2 separate regions of the Homo sapiens genome follow, and region 2 is linked to region 1. The links come from fine-mapping of genetic effects on gene expression. Tissue or cell type: monocytes after Pam3CSK4. Region 1 holds a variant in brackets; the other region holds the start of a gene. All regions are shown on one strand. Distances are between the middles of the regions.

What was found. PIP is the estimated chance that this variant, and not a neighbour inherited with it, causes the effect.
Region 2: ASAP1 starts here. The variant in region 1 is fine-mapped to the expression of ASAP1 in monocytes after Pam3CSK4 (Quach 2016, PIP 0.95).

The regions. Positions count from the first base shown.
Region 1 is chr8:130,212,911-130,220,440 of GRCh38, forward strand. ASAP1 (ArfGAP with SH3 domain, ankyrin repeat and PH domain 1) reads right to left here. Exons shown (of 30, transcript NM_018482.4): 5 at 1,646-1,791. Among named protein-coding and RNA genes, the nearest start is that of ASAP1-IT1, 80 kb to the right of the region's middle. The variant AAAAGGAAAGGAAAGG/A (reference allele first, on the strand shown) is at 3,065.
Region 2 is chr8:130,439,641-130,447,170 of GRCh38, forward strand. ASAP1 (ArfGAP with SH3 domain, ankyrin repeat and PH domain 1) reads right to left here and starts at 4,034. Exons shown (of 30, transcript NM_018482.4): 1 at 3,820-4,034. RefSeq lists silencers at 3,589-3,668, 3,719-3,878, 3,889-3,978, 4,019-4,118.

The sequences.
Region 1 (7,530 bases):
AAGCAAGACATCAATGCGAAAACACCCATCTCAGAGAAAACAGATCTTCCTGCCCAAGCAAGTCCTTTACCAGCTATTACCAAAGTGAACTGTCAGTCTTGTTTTGCTTCCTCTCTTTCTACCACACCACACTTTGAGCAAGGCCTCCAGTGAAAGTGCAGGCAATGCTCAGAGTGAAGGAAAACCGAGGGTGCTCTTCTGAATAAATGAGGTTTATATAATCTAAGATTTACAAAAACATGGATTTGTTAAATCCAAAAGCACAGAAACATTAGAGCCAAAGTTCAAAATTATCCTTTCCGAAGTTTTTGAAAATAATAAATAATTCTATGTTCGATATTTATTTTCTTTCAGATTTGCTTATTCGCTGTGTAAGATTAATTCAATGGCATACATCGCCAATTAGAAAAACTGTCAGGAAGACAGACACATACACACGTTTATTTATTGTGACAGAGAAAAAGAATATTGTAACTGGCCAAATAGGTTAATGGAGTGTAGAAAGGTAGTTTTCATTTTTCAAATAGGTTATCTTCATCTGTAAACTAACCTTTTGTATCTAATGGATTATGACAAATTATCACCTAAGGCCACAGAAGCCTATGTGATACATGAATAACTGACCTAGGTTAAGGACATCTTGAGAATGAGTTCTGGATCCTTAAAGGAGGTAAAAGCACAATACCAAGAGACTGGGAGAGAAGAGGGAACAGCTCCTCTTCTCCAGGGCAGGGCTAACTTGGAAAAGCATGATATAAATAGTTTTCCTTTGGCACCTTTCAACCTCATTGTACTCCTTTCTCTGGGGACTTAGGAGGATTAAATTATTTCACTGGGTGGCTCTTAGAGAAATAATTTCATCCCCCAAAACCAACAAAATCCAAATGATCCGTCCAGGTGGTGTTACCCAGAACCTTTCTAAGTGTGCACATGGTATGAGGGCTGGGGAGGGGGTTGCAGCACAACATGGGGATGCCCACACACGACTGCCTGGCAAACAGTTTCCTCCACCACCCCCATCCCTGGGTCTGCCTCCCGGGGCCAGCACCTCTAGTGTCTCAGATCGTTAGGGATTCTTCCTGTCATTTACTTTGGAAACCAGAGATTCCTTAAATCTCAAAACCCTTTTCTTGGTTGGGGGTTAAAAGGATGTGGGGAGTTGAGGGAGGTTCATTATTTATATATCAGAAACCAAAATGCATGATCACCTTCACACAAGTGAGATATAATACTTTCAATGTGTATTTCCAATGTATGTTCGACACAGAAATCATCATTCTTTTAGCCAATTAAAAAGCAAAAGTTGCTAAAGGTTATCTTTAAAAAAAAATCAATGGTAGAGATGTGGAAGAGAATTCAGGTTAAGCAGTTTCTCTCTCAGCTTCGATAAATCTACTCTATCAGCTGGGCCAAAGGTACAAATTCCAGGAATTTCACAATGGGATTTTCTTTAAGCAAATCCTAGGCGACTAAAAAGCTTTTTAGTTGAGGTGTGGAAGTTACCTAGGACTAAAAAGCTTTTTGTTTTTTCTTTCTCACCCCTAGGACCAAGGATTGAGGGGGAAGGATTATTGAAATGTTCTCTATATGACGTAATATTTTGGAAAGGCTGTAATTCTTTTTACTCACATATGAAATGTCTTACCAGATTTTTCAGCAGTGTGGACAGTTCCTTTGTAAGAGTAGAAAACTTGACAAACGCGGTGCCAAGGTCGGGGTTGTCTCGACTTAAAAAATTACTCCCAAACTTATCAAGAACTTGTGCATAGTTTTCTTCATTTTGTACATGATCTAAAAACAAAAAAGAAGAAGAAAGGAGTCTGAACTATTATTTGCCACAATGAAAAGTTACTTTGAACACCGATCACTACGAATTCTCAAAATGGAAGCATAAACTGTATCAATTATTTATTGCACATGTCCCAAAGGTTAGGTTAGGAGTACACTAAATATTCTAACTCACTCTACTAAGGAAGATTTTCCCTTTTATCTTTTTTTCTTTTTTTTTGAGACAGAGTCTCACTCTGTCTCCCAGGCTGGAGTGCAATGGCACAATCTCGGCTCACTGCACCCTCCGCCTCCCAGGATCAAGTGATTCTCCTGCCTCAGCCTCTTGAGTAGCTGGGATTAAAGATGCATGCCACCATGCCCGGCTAATTTTTTGTATTTTTAGTAGAGACAGGGTTTCACCAAGTTGGTGAGGCTGGTCTCAAACTCCTGACCTTGTGATCCGCCCACCTCGGCCTCCAAAAGTGCTGGGATTACAGGTGTGAGCCACCGCACCTCGCCTTTCCCTTTTTCTTTCATAGAATTTAGCTCATTTATAGTCCAGTTAATCCACTAATTCCTCATAGGCTGAGGGGTCAAATTACATCACATTTTCAAGCAATTAAGAAACTATGATTGACTGGGTATGGTGGCTCACGCCTGTAATCCTAGAACTTTGGGAGGCTAACGTAGGCAGGTCGCTTGAGCCCAGGAGTTCAAGACCAGCCTGGGCAACATGGCGAGACCCCGTCTCTACAAAAAATTAACAATTAGCTGGGTGTAGGGCCGGGAGCGGTGGCTCACGCCTATAATCCCAGCACTTTGGGAGGCCAAGGCGGGCCGATCACGAGGTCAGGAGATCGAGACCATCCTGACTAACACGGTGAAACCCCATCTCTACTAAAAATACAAAAAAGTTAGCCAGGTGTAGTAGCGGGTGCCTGTAATCCCAGCTACTCGGGAGGCGGAGGCAGGAGAATGGTGTGAACCTGGGAGGCGGAGCTTGCAGTGAGCCGAGACCGCGTCACTGCACTCCAGCCTGAGCAACAGAGTGAGACTCTGTCTCAAAACAACAACAACAACAACAACAAAAAACAATTAGCTGGGTATTGTGGCATGCACCTGTGGTCTCAGCTACTTGGGAGGCTGAGGCAGGAGGACTGCTGGAGACTGGGAAGTCGAGGCTACAGTGAGCTGTGCTTGTGCCACTGCACCCAGCCTGGGTGATAGAATGAGACCCTATCTCCAAAAAAAAAGAAAGAAAGGAAAGGGGAAAGGGGAAAGAAAAAGAAAAAGA[AAAAGGAAAGGAAAGG/A]AAAGGAAAGGAAAGGAAAGGAAAGGAAAAAGGAAAGGAAAGGAAAAAGGAAAGGAAAAGAAAGAAAAGGAAAAAGGAAAGGAAAGGGAAAAGGAAGAAAGAAACTATGATTACCTGAAAAAGTAGAAAATTCTCCTTGGAAAAACAATCTTGGATTGCAAAAGAAAAATTCATGTGTCCTAACAGGTTTCTTTCCCTGCAACTAATCTTCATTTCCTTTAATTTTGTCTAAGTTCCAGGTCTGAGGAATAGTATTTGTAAAATGCTTTTCACAGTCCAGCTCTTGCTGCAAAATGTTCAGAATTGGATCAGATGAATTAGGTGCACATGAGAAACATTAATTTGTGAAAATTTCTCCTCCCTGAGCTTTTGTTTTCCAATCCATAAAATGAGTCCAATATCTAACTTACAGAATTGTGGTATTGATGAGCTGACATAAAGTATATAAAAGTTTCTCAGTAGAGCAAATACTGCATAAACAATAACCCCCACTGCCTTGAAACATGTTCTTTGTCTGGCTTCCAGGATATCACACTTTCTTGAGTGTCCTCTTGCCTCACGACTGGTCCTCTCCATTGTCTTTGCTGGTTCTTCATCTCTCTGACCTCATCATGTTGAGGCCCCTCAGTCTTGGACCTTTCTTCTCTATTTTTGCTTACTCTCTTGGGATCTCAGTCTTACGGCTTTAAATACTTTCTATCAGCTGATAACTCCTAAATTGATATCCCCAGCCCAGAAAAACCCACCCTCTGTAATACAGACATATATTCAACTACCTATTCAGTATCTCCACTAACTATGTTGAATCTTAACATGTCTAAAACCAAACTCTTGATCTTCTTCCCATTCTTTTTCTCACAGTCCCCTATCTGTGGCAATGGCAAATACACTCTGCTTCTGAAATGGTCTCTCTGTTGCTACTTTTGCCTCCCAGCAGTCTGGTACCAACACAGCATCCAATGCAACACTGTTATACTGTGCATCAGATCTTGTGACTCTTGTGGCAGACATTACCACTTGCCATGGATATCCAAGTTCCCAATCCTTGCAGGGTTACAGAAAGGAGTACTGCATTTCCCCATACTCTCAAAGTAAGGCAGGAAATATGGCATGCACCATCCAAGGCCATGTGAGTGGAAGTGATGCATACCACGTTCTCTTGGAAGCATTTCAGATGCCTGTACTCAACTCTCCACCTCCCTCCTCTGTTGTGGCGCACAGAGAAGCATGAATTTGTAGGGAGGCCCACAGTAGATGCATAGTATTTACATAATGAATAAATGAATAAATAGATATTTATCAAAGTCATATCTTTTTTTTTGGTTTTTTTTGGTCATATTTTTAAAGGCTTTACAATAAATTACTTTTCTTTATAAAGTCTTCCTTTAGTTGGAAACAATCCTTCCTTGCCCACAATTCTCTGTACCTCTACTGCAGTATTTTCTACCACATCCTATATGTGTATATATGTATATATACACGTATATATACACACGTATATATGTATATTATATGTGTATATATGTGTATATATGTGTGTATATATGTACACACACACACACACACACACAGATCTTTTCCTACCACCAGACCGCAAGAGGCAGGGATTACCTATGGTTCACTTCTGCATCCCTACCCAATGGACACTGCTGTAGTTCTTTCAGTGAGCTGGACTTTCAAAGCTGCGGCTTGGTTAATATTTGTTGACCTGGATTTATTGAATTCCTTTTCAGGAATTTAAGAAGCATCCCTTTCTGAAATAGCGTAGGATGTTCAATAACTGAGATCAAATTTTTAAATTCTGCTTTCAAACACACCTCAATAAGTGCATGGGTGCAATGGGCACTCATGAAACAGAACATGAGTCTGGATTGGGAAATAACCCAGGAAGTCTAAATACCATGAAGGAAACAAGTGTCACAGCAGTCCAATGAAACGAAATGAGGCCCTAGCCAGCCTTCTAATCACCACCACATTAAAAATTCATGGTGCCTGCAGTGGTTGTCAGCATCTCAGGCTGAGATATTAAAAAATGCAGCTCTGGTTACTATCCAAGTTCACTCAGAGGAGCGGCTCAGAAAAACAGAAAAGAAAGGCCACACGAGCTCAACCGAGAAGACACACAGGTTTCATCTCCCTCATGTGCTGGAGCTACTCCTGATACCTTCTGTCTGAGGCCAAAGAGGTCCCACCTTACCACCAAGACTCCTACCTCATCTGATATCCTTTTCTGATTTTGGAGACCTATGAAAAAAGAATTCAGCTGTGTGTTCATTTTACCTGCTCCCAAGGGAAGCACCTCAGTAGTAAAAATAGGTATATAGGCTGCTTTCTTGAGACTATCAAATATTTCAAGTGAAAAATATAATTAGTTAATCGAATATACATGTATGCGCCACCCAGCTTAATAAATAAAATATTAAAGAATGATTCCCTATTCCCCTACTCCTGTCCCTCTACCCAATTCCGATCTCCTTCCTTCCCTCCCTAGACACAGCCATTATCCTGAATTGAAATTTCATGCAAAGGTTAGAAAGAATTACAAGAAGCTCTCCATCTATCTGTGATGACAGACTCATTAAAGAATAAGATGGAGTTGGCTAAAGGCTAAGGCAGAGACAGGCCATAGGAAGAAGGTGTTGGGAGAAGCTCAGAACCTTCTGTGACCCAAATCCTTATGCTTTCTACAATCTCATATTTCACCCCCACTAGTTCTGCAAGGGAAGAATTATGCTTATTAGGTAGATGAAACATGAAATGTGACGTGAGTGAGGCAGAAGACTAGATAAGTATAGGCTAGGTCATGGGTCCTGTATGTTTTGCTAATTCCACAGCTGAATAACCATGTAGTCTCTTTCCATATATATATATATATGCATATGTATGTATGTATGTGTGTATATACTGGCATATATGTCTCACATATATATACATGTCTCACATATATATGTGTATATATATAATTTCCTAGCATAAAAATATAACAGTTTAGTAAGATATATCTTGGGGTAATAATAACAATAATAATCATAATCCTATGAAAATAGAATGATAGAAAATTAAATGTAAGGTGCTTAAAATAGTGTCTGGCATGTGGCATGTGCCCCAAAATGTCAGCTACTGTTACCGCTATATATCCATGACTACTTACAATACAGAGCGATGTCTGTAATATCAAACAGAATAAAAACACAGGTCTCACATGTCTTTTTTTTTTTTAACATACTGTATTATAAAGTTAGTAAAGTCAATACTAGAAAGATCACACACATGTCCCCTAACACACACACACTTGTGTACAAAATTAAGGGTTTACCCAGCAGACTTTCAACAGGCACAGAGAGTGAGACAGCAAAGAACCATGATTCTGGTGGAGGAAATAGCAAGGGCAACGGCAGAAGGGAGGAACACACTGCAGAGTACAGTAAGCCATCTGAGGGGAATGTCAGTTCAGAGGTATAGGGAAGAGGAGGGAAAGAAGGCTGCGGTGGTGGGACACTGCCACAGGAATGAGTGTTTCTGAAGGAGACGGACTGATAAGGCAGAAAATGGCCCACTCACTTCAAGAGGTTTCAGAGAGCAGGATGCAGCTCTGTTTTAAGATCTTTACTACATGCGAGTGCTAGAAGACTTTTGGGCACATAGTACAGTGGGAGTTAGGGTAAGTAGGTGAGAAAAGAAGACTGGATAAAAGAAAAGAACAGAGAAATGTGATCCATCCGTTAAGAAGACACATTCTTTCCCAATATTCCTAAGAAACTTCTGGCATCCACGACATTGTTGCAGAAGGCAAGATAATTGTTTTGTTGCTGATGTTGAGACAAGGTCTTGCTATTGTAGACCTGCGTGGAGTGCAGTGGCATGAACATGGCTCACTGCAGCCTCAACCTACTGGGCTCAAGTAATCCTCCCAACTCAGCCTCTGAAGTAGCTGGGACTACAGGCACATGCCATCATGACCGGCTAATTTTTAATTTTTTGTAGAGATGGGGTCTTGCCATGTTGCCCAGGCTCGTCTCCAACTCCTGGGCTCATGTGTTCCTCCCACATTGGCCACCCAAAGTGCTAGGATTTACAGGTGTAAGCCACCACGCCTGGCCTGCAAGATAATTCTAACAGCTAGGTGAATCCTTTCAGTTCAAACAAGAATGAAATAATATGAGAATGAAATCTGGTCTAGTTTTAAAAACTAGACCAGAAAAGGCCACTTCATCACGATTTCAACTGCCAGCATTTCTGTGGGGAAATGACTAATATAAACTAATCACTGATTTACTACTCTAGTATTACTATTCCAGTAATAATCGTTACAATAGCTAGTTTGTTGGGTATTGACTAAATGTTATTGTATTAAGCACTTTACATACAGTACATTACTTCATTCACTCTTACTAACAGTCCATGAGATAAGTACTATTACCATCCTCACTGTGTAGATATAAACACTTACC
Region 2 (7,530 bases), 230 kb after region 1:
AGGGGAGGGAGTTAAAAGCATCTTCGAGGAGATAAAGACACAGGTGCTTTTTAAAGATGAGTAGCAATTAGCCTGGGAGAGAGGAAGAGCATCCCCCGCAGGGGGAAGAACGTAAGCAGACACTCAGGGAAATGAAACACAGGGCATGTGCCGGCAAGCACTCTGGCAGCTCCACAGCAGGCTGGTAATAATGTCTCTAGCCTGTAAGTCTCCTCGGAGGTCCAGGCCTCCTGCCTGCCTGAAATCTCCACAGGATGCCTCCTAGACATCTCAAATTTAGGATGGCTGATACAGAACTTGATTTTCTCCATGAGCATAATCCTCCTAGTCTTCCTGTCTCCCACAACAACGCCACCATACACCCAGCTGTTCAAGCCAGAACCCCAGGAGTCACCCTTGAGTCCTTTCCCTTGCCTCATTCCAATGTAATCTATCACCAGATCTCATCAATGCTATCTCCAAGATCTAAGTAGGCTCCTCCCACTTCTCTCTACCTCCATTGCTGCTGTCCAGTTCTAAGCCACCATCCTCTTTCCTCCTAAGTGGTCTTCCTGCTTCTACACTTTGCCCCCTATGATCCATCCACTTTTCATAAAAGCAGTCAAAGCAATCTCAAAAATGTCCATCAGGCTGGCCATGGTCGCTCACCTGAGGTCAGGAGTTTGAGACCATCCTGATCAACACGGCGAAACCCCGTCTCTACTAAAAATATAAAAATTAGCCAGGTGTGGTGGTGCATGCCTATCATCCCAGCTACTCAGGAGGCTGAGGCAGGAGAATCACCTGAACCCAGGAGGCAGAGGTTGCAGTGAGCTGAGATCATGCCACTGCACTCCAGACTGGGCAACAGACCTAGACTCTGTCAAAAAAAAAAAAAAAAGAGTCAATCAGATATCACTGCTGAGCTTAAACTCACCAAAGCTTCCCTTTGTACTGGGTGGAGGGACTCTCCCCAGCATGGCTTAGAATCGGCTGTGTGATCTCGTCCCTGCTTCCCTCTCAAACCTCACCTTGCGCCATTCCCCCCATCTCTCCCTTACACTCTAGCCCTGCCTTCCCTCACTCCTTGGAATACACCAAGCTCTTTTGTGCATAGTCAACTTTGCACATTCCCATCCCTCTGCCTGGAAGGCCCTCCCCTGCAATCTCTCTGCCTGGCCAGTTCCTTCTCCATTTTCCAATCTCAGAAAGGCTTTCCCTTCCAAAACTAGGACCAACTTGTGCCACCAGCCCCTACTTTGGTCCCAGGTTTGTTTCCTTGATAACAAGGAATCACTCATCTGTTAGAGGTTGTTTCTTCTGCTTCTTCCTTGTTGCTCATCTCCTCCAGAGGAATGCAAGCTCCAGAAGGGCAGTGCCAGGTCTATTTCGTCCACCACTGTATCATCAGGACTCCACACAGGGCTTAGCATGGCGCAGGTGCTCAATGCATGGTTGTTCAATTGATGAATTAAAAGAGAAAGTGTGAGGCTGACATTGAAAGATGAGGCTGGAAATAGAAGGCCTTGAGAACAGGGTCCTATTCATCTTTGCAGGACTGGCACCTCCCACAGGGAAGCCACTTAGCAAATGTTTCACTGGATGCATGAAAGAAAAACTCGATTCCAGATAAATCTGAGATGTGCTGTCCTTTCTGGGCAAGGCTCCCCAAGAAGTTTCCGCTCCTCCTTAGGACTTCTTAGGAGGTAACATGTCTAGGGCATACAGCAAGTGCTTAATAAATGGGGTGACTGTTACTATTGCTCACGTGGGGATCACTCATGCAGTCTCCTAGAAAAGACCTTCCGGAGCCCATGCCAGATACAGCAGTGGTTGGGTGAAAAAACGGCAGGGAAAAATGAGAACCGAGCAGCAGGATCCAAATACGGCTGAGACCTAGGTGGGGAAATGGCAGGAACAACACTGTCCTAGCTAACTGGGGTTCCCTTCTTTCCTCTAGACTTCAGTCACCTAGGTGCAGCATGGAGATGCCAGCTGGGACGTGAGTCTTCACAAGGGAGGGCTCAATCTGAATGCACACATTCATCTTTGGGCCTGCCAGGCTTGCACTGATTTTGAAAATCTGGCTCGCTGTGGCTGGTGAGGACTGGGGAGGTGTAGAGAATTTCAATTTCCCTCACCAAATGGCAAGCTTGCGAAAAGTCCTTTCTCTCCAACATTATCACATACTAAAAATGAAAAACCAGCCATTCAGAGCTCTCATGAGAAAAATAGATGGGCTGCTTAGCTCACAAGAAACAGGAGGGCTGAAAATCAAGTCTAGAGAACATCAGAGGGTACATTATGTGCTAAGATACTGCCCTTTTTTGGACCTGGGAGTTTCTATTTTGCACAAAAGAATGGGATAGGGAAAGTAATTCCCCGTATAATAAGCCACTCATTTTATACTTCAAATCCATTTGGTAGCTGAATCTCCAAATCCACTTAGTGGCGTTAGGTGATTTTTGTTTTTTTTAACTCCCTATCTCAAAATATGCAGTTTGAAATAAGTGCATATCTCAAAAATAGCAGCATTAACAGGACAGAAGAGAAGGCACTAAAGTGGTGAAGGCTGTGACGCAAAGAAGACGTTTCCAAATCTGTTTCATGGCTAACAGATCAAAATCTAACACAGAAGGGGCATGGGACTGAGCCTGAAGAAGTGGAAACTACTCCTGGCCATGTGATCTTGGGCAAGTCAGGTCACCTTTCTGGGCCTTCTCTGAAGGGGGTGAATCAGTTGTTCTCAAAGATCTTTTTCTTTCCAAACTGTTCACTGGGTGTTTCCAGAAGACCCGCATTTTCTTAAAGCTATCTGGCCGCGCTACAATTGCAAAACAGAAAGGCTTTGGGATGAAGGTTGCAATACAGATAACCCTGGCCTAAAAACTGATAAGCTTTTACAATCCCAAAACATTACTCAGCAATCCAGGTCCTGATGTCATCCCAGAATCAATCACGCCAAGATAACCTAACAGAGTAGACAGGGGAAAATGCGAGAGAAAGTTCTTTTGCTTTCCTGACGAGTACAGGTAAAGTTGAGGTCAAGTTAACGATGATGGTCTGCAGTTGACCATCCTTCTCCCTGAGCTACTGGAAAACCACATTATTAAAGGAAACTGCTTTAGAAGTGCCCAAGATGAACCTCTTGGGATGTATCAAACCGCAGAAAACCGGACACCGGCAAGTTTCTTTTTTCTTTGAAACTTCATGTCGCTCTCAGAAAACGCAGCAGGTCCCAAAATGGTACAAGCAGAAAACACAAGCCACTTCACGGTCCGCCCAGGAGCCAACCCCAAGCTCCAAGTAGGACTCCCCCCACCCCCTTCCCTTTCGTTTCTCTTCTTTTGCTTTAGGCAAGTGGCCTGGGGCCTGCCAAGCAGCGCCGGGTCCGGGTAGGGGCCGGGGGCCGCGGGGAACTTTCCTCGGCTGCACCAGAGACAATGCCGGGAGGGCGCCCCATCGGCGGGGTCCGGGCCGCCAAGCACGTCGTCCCGGGCCCTCCCCCGGAGGGGGACGCGAAACCCCCCAGGGCGGGCCCCGTCCCCGGCCCCACTGCAGGGGCCCCCTCTCCCGAGCTGGAGGCGAGGAGACCTCCCCCCCCCACCGGGCGGCCTCGCCCGGCCCCGCAGAGCCTGGCCGCGCGTCCCGCACACGCCCCAGCCCAGGGCCGGCGCCCTCCCCGCGGAGAAGGACACCCCGCTGCGAGAGGAGCCGGGAGCCCGCCCCGCGCCCCGTCCCGGCGCCCTTCTTCGCGCGAGAGACTGGGCAGGGGGCGCCCGCGACTGTGGGCGACTCCGCCCGGCCCCGCCGAGCGCGCCCGAGCGCCCCGCAACTCACCGGGACCTGGCGGGCCGCTGGGCATTATTCCATCGCGGGTTCGGCCGGGCGCTCGCGGCTCTCGGGTGGGAAAGCGAACTGCGACCGGGAAGCGCCGGCTGGGCGGGAGGCGCGGGCCCGGGGCTGCCCAGCGCACAGTGCTCGCCCGCGGCAGCGGCCAGGCCAGGCGAGGCGCGGGAGCCGAGCGCGGCGCAGGAAGGGGCGGGCGACCATGTGCCGAGGGGGAGGAGGCCGCGGCGACGCGAGCGGCTCGCACGATCCCGCTCGGCGGCGGAGGGCGCGGGTTTCAGGAAATCCAAACACTTCGACAGGAAATCGGAATCCTGACTAAGCATTCCCGGCCCCGAGCCGCTCCGCGCCGGGGGCTCCCGCCTCGCTTAACCCTTGGCCCGCCGGCAGCCACGAGGGGGGCGTGGGAGGGGCCCCAGACCTCGGCCGGGGTCGGGCGTCCTTCGCCTTCCGCCCCATGCCCCGGCCGGCCGGCCTCCTCCCCGCCTGAGGTGGAAGGGGTGGGATTTATCCACAGAAAACCCTGGACGCGGAAGGTGCCTTTCTAAGGCCGGGACAGCGGCAAAGGACGTGCCTGTCTTCCATCTGCAGAGGATGGACCTGCACTGTCCTGGCCGTTACCCCTATTTTCAGTAAAGGAATGATTTCACCAGGCTGCCCCCTTTCACCACTTCCTCTCTGCTCTTATAATTTTATTTTTGCCCAGTGCCAAGGGAACAGGACCTTCCCAGTCAGGATAGTATAGGAACAGTATGGAGAGTAATTGTGTGGGCTGCAGGCTCTGTGTCCGGTTGGAATATGGCCTTTTTTCTACTCATGTTACCTTGAGTAACTCGCTCAACTTTCCTGAGCCTCAGTTTCCATTTATGAAATGGATGTTAATTCCACCCTCATAGGTTTGATCTGGAAGCTGAATGTTTAGACAGGGACTGGCACATTGGAAACGCCCAAATAAATGATAGCCATGCTTGTCCTTATTATTACCATTAAAAGACATCAGAGAAAGGAGGATTTTAATTTGTGGGATGTATATTGTGCATATCTATGTCTACTTTCAAAGTCAGAGACAGTAGTCTTTCTTTAGAACTTAATTTCCCTCCTAATCATTGGGTGATTGTTTTTCTTTGCAGCATTTCAGAAACGGCTCTCTGCAGAGGAAATGGTTAGTGGCTGTGGCAGACCCCCTTCTGGTGAAATCCGAAACAGAAAACCTCACAAAATTTGGGATTTTGCTCCTAATCTGAGAGTCTGGGTGTAGTGGGGAGTGGGGGTTGTTAAACAGTCTGGAGCGGATTTACAAAGTTTGGGAAAACCAAAATCAATCTCTGACTGGGCAGAGAGGTCGGGCAGCCAATGAGTGATTCATTGTGGTTTCCCACGGAAATGCCACATTTCGGGGGTGTCTACCTGGAGGATGCAGCTTGGTGGTTTTGCTGTAAGTGTTTCAGATTCCTTTGAAACCCAATCAGACTTTGAAGAGGGAACAACATGCTCATGAGCGAAAACAGAAGCCTGAAATGAACCTGCTGGGAACTGAAAGTTGGGTACCAGCTCGTTTACTCCAAGTAAGGAACAGATACCAGTTTTAGACCCAGCATTGTTCCTTTTCTGCAATTCTCTCTCCGTGGCCAGAAGCAGTAGGACAGCTCTGAGCTGGGCACCAGGAGTCCCAGGGTCCTGCTCCAGGCCCACTGTAGCTGCCGTCCCCTCTGCCTGGAAGAACCCTTGTATGGCTGTTCTTGGCACGCAGCTCACAGCCCAGAAGTCAGCTCCGCAGATAGGTTTTCCCCAACCATGTGATCTGCTTGTCTCTGGCACCTACACCCCACCTCCACCTCTCCCAAACATAGCGCATCCTGTTTGATTGCTTCATAGCCCTTGTCACTGTTTAATGTAGCCTACATGATTGGTTGCTTATTTTTTATCTGCCCCCCACTCTCCCCACTGCATGGGTAAACTGCATTACAGCAGTACCTTTGCCTGTTTCCTTAGAACAGTGCTGGCCCATATGAGACCATCGATAAACACGTGTTGAATAAATGAAAGAAGCAAACAAACTAGAGTTGCAGATGGGACCTCTGCCTGAGGTAGGGTGGTTCACTCGGTCCCGCAGCTCCCTGTGGCTTCCTCTTTGGTGGAGAGATTCAAAAGGGAACGCCCAGTGCGGTGGAAGGAGCACCAGATGGCTCTATTAGTGCTTCTGGAAAACTAAAACTATAAGTAGGCCAGGCGCGGTGGCTCACGCCTGTAATCCCAGCACTTTGGGAGGCCGAGCAGGTAGATCACCTAAGGTCAGGAGTTTGAGACCAGTCTGGCCAACATGGTGAAACCCCGTGTCTACTAAAAATACAAAAAATTGCCGGGCGTGGTGGTGGGCACCTGTAATCCCAGCTTCTCCAGAGGCTGAGGCAGGAGAATCGCTTGAACCCGGGAGGCAGAGGTTGCAGTGAGCTGAGATCATGCCATTGCATCCCAGACAGGGTGACAGAGTGAGACTCCGTCTCAAAAAAAAAAAAAAAAAAAAAAAAAAAAAAAACCTAAGTAATTAAGACTGTCAAATGAGGTAACTATAGTCTCATTGGTATAGTCCCAGTTAATTACTCCCTCCTTTGTGCTTCCTTGGCATTTCTGTTTAAAGAATATATTTGTCATATTGTATACTCACTAGATGACTGTTCTCCTAAATCAGATGGAGGAAAGGAGTCCACATTTGTTGACCACTTGCTCTGAGTGGGTCCCTGAGCAAGGTGAACTTGAATTCATTTTAAGGCATCGGTTAAGTGCCTGTAATGTGCTAAAAAAATCTGGGCCCTACATGTGCAATGATGAAAAAGAACTATTCTTGCTAAGAAAGACAGGAAAGCTCTATCTAGTAAGCAGAGAGATAAGTACTCTTATAGAGTCATGTCCAGGGTATCCAGGGCTATTCAGAACATTGAAGGTGGAGTAGGGTGGAGATAAGTTGGAAAATGCTTCCAAGAAGTGGGTGCTCTTGAACGAACTTTCAAGGAGGAGATGGGACCTATGTAGCTAGATAAGGGGGCACAGGCCTGCCAACCAGAGTAACAAGCGTGAGTGTTAGTGATGCTCGGCTCCATGTCCCCTGGGCCCACCTCTGAGCTCACCGGCAGCTGCAATGAGCTGCCCTCTGTACAGAGAAACTGTCTATCCAAAGCAGGCCCCCTTTCTCCTCTCTACCAGGAGGCTTTCTCAAGGGCTGTGGGATCTTGCCTAGCCTGGAAGTTTCCAACAGCCCTGGGTCAGTCCTTAACCAAACAGTGGATGAATGTGTCAGCCTCCCCTTCCCTAAGGAAGATCAATTCTCAAATGCTCTCAAGGCAGTTCCTCAGAGGAATTCCCCAGTAGGAATGAGTCCAGTTGCCCCCAGCAGTCACTCCCTCATTAAGTCACTCTTTGATTTTGCCTCTTCTCCCTTCCTTGCCTTACTTTCTCACTTCCTTATTTGTTCTTGGGATCCCAAATAAAGTAACTGCACCCATCTCCTTGTCTCAAGGTATACTTCTGGGGAAACCCAATCCAGAGTAGTGTTCATGCATATATTCACAGATACTGGCTGGGCACTCCCAAGTGCCTGAGTAAAGACTGAGCATGAACACATAATATATGTGGGTGACTCTACCAGGTTCAGCATGATCTGAGAACATGATGCATGTTCAGACATGGAAAACAATGAGACTAAAA